2 separate regions of the Homo sapiens genome follow, and region 1 is linked to region 2. The links come from fine-mapping of genetic effects on plasma protein levels. Region 2 holds a variant in brackets. A gene starts in the other region. All regions are shown on their forward strands. Region 1 holds the start of NTRK2 (neurotrophic receptor tyrosine kinase 2). Region 2 overlaps SNX17 (sorting nexin 17).

What was found. PIP is the posterior inclusion probability: the model's chance that the variant is causal. The UK Biobank Pharma Proteomics Project read protein levels with antibody pairs (Olink). The fine-mapping took linkage between variants from a reference panel, not from the people measured, so its PIPs are less certain.
Region 1: NTRK2 starts here. The variant in region 2 is fine-mapped to the plasma level of the NTRK2 protein (UK Biobank, PIP 0.94).

Annotation. Positions count from the first base shown.
Region 1 is chr9:84,667,131-84,670,119 of GRCh38, forward strand. NTRK2 (neurotrophic receptor tyrosine kinase 2) reads left to right here and starts at 2,599. Exons shown (of 19, transcript NM_006180.6): 1 at 2,599-2,758. RefSeq lists a silencer at 1,124-1,343.
Region 2 is chr2:27,373,716-27,376,215 of GRCh38, forward strand. It overlaps SNX17 (sorting nexin 17), which reads left to right. Exons shown (of 15, transcript NM_014748.4): 5 at 146-256; 6 at 370-460; 7 at 631-718; 8 at 974-1,043; 9 at 1,346-1,438; 10 at 1,791-1,994; 11 at 2,131-2,256; 12 at 2,391-2,468. Among named protein-coding and RNA genes, the nearest start is that of SNX17, 4.4 kb to the left of the region's middle. The variant T/C (reference allele first, on the strand shown) is at 1,515.

The DNA of each region.
Region 1 (2,989 bases), not on the chromosome of region 2:
GACAGAAAGTAAGGCAAGGTTTTAAGCAGTGCTAGGAGCACTCAGAACGCAAGGAAGATTTGAAATTGTGAAGGTGAGAAGGAGCGTGTCTGGGGGAATTATCCAGGTTCTTGCAGACTTAGAGGTTAAGAAAGTGAGATCTCCTTTATTTTATTTTATTTATTCATTAAAAATACACATATATTTTAACACCTACTATGTCCTTGAGAGATATCAATGAATAAAATAGATAAAAATCCCTGCCTTCATGGAGTGTACATTCTTCTGGGAGAAATTTTAAAAATATATATAATAAGTAAATTATCTGTCCAAAGGACAAACTGCTATGGTTGAAATAGTAGAGCAGAAGTAGGGTGATTAGAAGTAGGACCGCAAATCCTAATTTTAAGTGGGAGATAGTGGAATATATTTAGAATCCAACTATAATAGTAGCATATATTTACTCTAATAGAAACTCTACAAATATTCCAACATAATTAGACTCTTCTGGTGTACAAACCACCGTAAGACTGCCTATTCTCCATACCGCATTGACATGCTGCAGCCACTAGGGCGAAAATGGGCCGTTTCTTAGAAAAATGGGCTCAGAGTATGGGAGTGTGAGAGAAATGTGGGTGATTACGCACACACTCCTTCCTTCCCCAAGTGTTCCTCAGGGGCTTCTCCGCTTAAGGTTCACTGACAAGACAGGCGGAGTTTTACGTGCGTCTGAGACCAGGTCATTTTTGCCCTTGGCGTCTCTTCCTTGGCGCGTCCTCACCTAGTAGAGAATAGAGGCGCAGCTCAGGAGTAAACTTCAGCCTGGCCGTTCACCACTCGATGTGTGTTACAGCCGAGTGACAGTGGTGAGATAGACCTGCTGGCCTTGCTTTCGGGACCTGCAGCAAGATTTTTGGGTGCTGTCCAAGAATTCCCGCGGTTACACTCAGCGCCCAGGATCTGTACAAAAAAGCCCCAATAGATGTTTTACGTTCCCTTCGTAATATTTAACGCTTGGCCTAGATCCGAGCATTCACTCTAACGTTCGGTTTCTTGATCCTTCCCATCCCCAAACTCTGCGGGTAGATCAGTGACTATTACTATATTTTGAACGAGACTCCAACCCATTGCTCTCTCGAGAGAGAAGGATTGCCCGCCTTTTTCCCCCGGGCAGGAGCTCGGCGAGGCCAGGAGAGCCGCGCACCGGCCGGGCAGGGACGCGCAGGCGTCGGGCGCCGCTGGTTGCGCATCTGGCGCCAGAGCGCGCCCCCAGCGCTGTGCCCGCCGCGACCCGGGCCATGGGCTGGTGCTCCGGAGCGTGCCGGGCGCTCTCTCCCCGCGCGGGGGCACCAGAGCCCTCGGAAGTGTCAGGCACTGCGGTGTATTTTCCCCGTTCTCTTTTAAATGACTGCGGAAAAACAGATTCCGAGCCGCAAAAGGGAAGACGGATTCTCAGACAAGGCTTGCAAATGCCCCGCAGCCATCATTTAACTGCACCCGCAGAATAGTTACGGTTTGTCACCCGACCCTCCCGGATCGCCTAATTTGTCCCTAGTGAGACCCCGAGGCTCTGCCCGCGCCTGGCTTCTTCGTAGCTGGATGCATATCGTGCTCCGGGCAGCGCGGGCGCAGGGCACGCGTTCGCGCACACCCTAGCACACATGAACACGCGCAAGGTACGGCAGGGGAGCAAGGGCTTGGGATGCCCTACGTGGGGGTGGGCATCGCGGGGAGTGAATCCACGATCTGGGAATGGCTACATCCCGTCAGGTTAAAGGATGAGAGAAAATGACGCGGCGCCACACATCGGACAGGCCAGGGTGGCCACCGAGCATTTAGAATACGCATCAGGCGCGCTCCCTTCCCCTCACATGTCTCTATTTCCCGGGCGTGTGATGGCAGAAAACGGCAGGAAAAAGACCCACTTAGAGAGCTAGAATTGTGTTTGGAGACTCCCTTCCCTCTGCAAAAGCACCAACAGGAAGCCCCTCCAAAACCACCGATCCCCAAATAGGTGGCCCGGAATGGGGGCGGTGATCCTTGGTTACCAATGCAGAACACGTTTTGGTGTTTACAACATTTATTTATTTTTAGGATAGCTTGCCCTCCCTTTTAGGCAGGGTGGGAAAGGAGAACGCGGGGAGGGAGAAGGGAGGGAGGATTCCTATAATAAGAATCAGCGCATTTTTCAGAGCTGAACCAAGCACGGTTTCCATTTCAAAAAGGGAGACAGCCTCTACCGCGATTGTAGAAGAGACTGTGGTGTGAATTAGGGACCGGGAGGCGTCGAACGGAGGAACGGTTCATCTTAGAGGTACCTGGATGTAAATGCACACACACACACAGACACACACACGCACGCGCGTGCATGTCTACACGGCCAGGATGTGTGCGTGTGTGCGCGCGTGTGTGAACTCCCACATGCTGCTGCTGTCTGCTTCTGGCCAGTGGCACCGATGCCTCCCTCCTCCCTGCTCGCCCCCAGATTCCCCTCCCCTCCCTGGTGCTTTTGTCTGGAGGGTGTTATGGGTTTGTGTGTGTATGAGCGTGTGTGTGTTTTTGGATTTCAGACTAATTTTCTGGAGTTTCTGCCCCTGCTCTGCGTCAGCCCTCACGTCACTTCGCCAGCAGTAGCAGAGGCGGCGGCGGCGGCTCCCGGAATTGGGTTGGAGCAGGAGCCTCGCTGGCTGCTTCGCTCGCGCTCTACGCGCTCAGTCCCCGGCGGTAGCAGGAGCCTGGACCCAGGCGCCGCCGGCGGGCGTGAGGCGCCGGAGCCCGGGTGAGCAGCGCAGATAGTGCCCTCGGTCGCCTCGGCCCTCACTGTCTCCCCCTGGGGCGGCCTCGGCTACTCCCCAGGTGGGACGTGCCGCGCCACCTGCCCGCGCCACCGGCACCCAGCGGCCGTGGCGGATTCTGCAGCATCATTCGGGGGCCCCGTCGCGGAGCCAAAGCCGCCGGCAGTCTCCGCATTCCCCTTTAAAGGGTCCTTCGCCCGGCCTGTACCATGGAA
Region 2 (2,500 bases):
TCTATTCTTATGAAATCAAAGAAATCACAGCCTATATTTAAGCAGCTGAGAATAAAGACACACAAGGGACCTAGAAATAGAGTTGGGCATAGGTCAAGGCAAGGGACAAGGCAGTGCTTCCCATCCCCATGTGTGCTCACAACAGGAGACACAGCAGGTCCCCACAGAGGAAGTGTCCTTGGAAGTGCTGCTCAGCAACGGGCAGAAAGTTCTGGTCAACGTGCTAACTTCAGATCAGACTGAGGATGTCCTGGAGGTGAGGCGCTTGTTCAGCACTGCCCCTTCTTCCCCTACATCCTGGGGTCCTGGGCTTGGAGAATGATTGGAACCAGCCAGTATGATGAGCTGTACTTCTATCCCTATCCCCAGGCTGTAGCTGCAAAGCTGGATCTTCCAGATGACTTGATTGGATACTTTAGTCTATTCTTAGTTCGAGAAAAAGAGGATGGAGCCTTTTCTTGTGAGTTTCTCTGGACTTGACTGCAGTACAAGGGTACTTCAGTAGAGTTTGCAGCCCCCCTAACTCCCCACCCCCACCCCCAGAATGAACATTGCCTCAGGGCACTTCTTTCTTGATTTCCCTTCCTTTAAATCTCACTATATTTTCATTTTTTTTTTTTTAACCTGTAGTTGTACGGAAGTTGCAAGAGTTTGAGCTGCCTTATGTGTCTGTCACCAGCCTTCGGAGTCAAGAGTATAAGATTGTGCTAAGGAAGAGGTCAGGGCTGGGCCTGGAAGGGGAGGGGTGGGAGGTGCTGTGCTGGATTGGATTATTGGGCCACATATTGAGACAGAATAATCTGGACAAGGGGGTGTAGTGCTGGGTGTTTCTGCCAGGCCTCCCAAGCTTCCTCCCACTATACCATTAGCCCCTGATAGTTCCAGATTGCTCCTGTTTTGCCCATTTTCCATTCTACCTCTTGCCTTAACCCAGCTTAGCCCCATTACCCCTTTCCACCCCTTGGCCTCACAGTTATTGGGACTCTGCCTATGATGACGATGTCATGGAGAACCGGGTTGGCCTGAACCTGCTTTATGCTCAGGTGAGCTTGGAGCTGCCTCAGAACCCTTCCCCTGAAGAAAATAACGGGTGACTCACTCTCCCAAGAAAACTGCTGTCGTGTCTTTGTTCCCAATTTGTGGGGAAGTTCCTAGAATACTATCAGTGCTGCTGGCACAATATCTACTCTCCCTACTTTTATTAAGCTGACAAGATCAAGGACTTACTGCAGAGAGGTCGCTCAAGTGTGGGGCTAGGGGTCAGGCTGGACAGAGGTAATGGTAGACGCTTTCCTTGGATTGCTGACTGGGACCTCCTACTGCCTGCCCCTTGTCTCTACTATAGACGGTATCAGATATTGAGCGTGGGTGGATCTTGGTCACCAAGGAACAGCACCGGCAACTCAAATCTCTGCAAGAGAAAGTCTCCAAGAAGGAGGTGAGCCCTGCCTCCTCTCTGTCTTCCTCTAAGGGCTTGCAGTGGCGCGATCTTGGCTCACTGCAAGCTCTGCCTC[T/C]CAGATTCATGCCATTCTCCCGCCTCAGCCTCCCGAGTAGCTGGGACTACAGGCACCCGCCACGACGCCCGGCTAATTTTTTGTATTTTTGGGAGAGACAGGGTTTCACCATGTTAGCCAGGATGGTCTTGAGCTCCTGACCTTGTGATCTGTCTGCCTCTGCCTCCTAAAGTGCTGGGATTATAGGCATGAGCCACCGCGCCCGACCGGGGTTGCTTTTTCTGAGCTGCCCCATTCTCCCTCCTAATCTACCCCCATGTGATGACCATTTTTCAGTTCCTGAGACTGGCCCAGACGCTGCGGCACTATGGCTACTTGCGCTTTGATGCCTGTGTGGCTGACTTCCCAGAAAAGGACTGTCCTGTGGTGGTGAGCGCGGGCAACAGTGAGCTCAGCCTGCAGCTCCGCCTGCCTGGCCAGCAACTCCGAGAAGGCTCCTTCCGGGTCACCCGCATGCGATGCTGGCGGGTCACCTCCTCTGTGAGTCGGGTTAGGAGGGGGAAGGGCCTGGGTTGGGGGCCCGGCAAGCCTTGAGCTTAGGTATGGGCTGCAGCGGGTCAGGGAGCCAGACAGGTTGGTCAGAGTGAACTCAACCGAATTCCCCTTCCTCTCCCAGGTACCATTGCCCAGTGGAAGCACGAGCAGCCCAGGCCGGGGCCGGGGTGAGGTGCGCCTGGAACTGGCTTTTGAATACCTCATGAGCAAGGACCGGCTACAGTGGGTCACCATCACTAGCCCCCAGGTGTGAACCTACCCTCAGCCCTCCTCTGGAGCACCTTAAAGTGTAGAGTTTCCAGTACTCAATATGGGAGGCATTAGTGGTGCTGGGCTCAGAGTGACCACTCTCATCAAGCTGGACACTCTTCTTGCCCTCAGGCTATCATGATGAGCATCTGCTTGCAGTCCATGGTTGATGAACTGATGGTGAAGAAATCTGGCGGCAGTATCAGGAAGGTAGGCAGCAAGTGTGGACTGAGCAGTGAGCA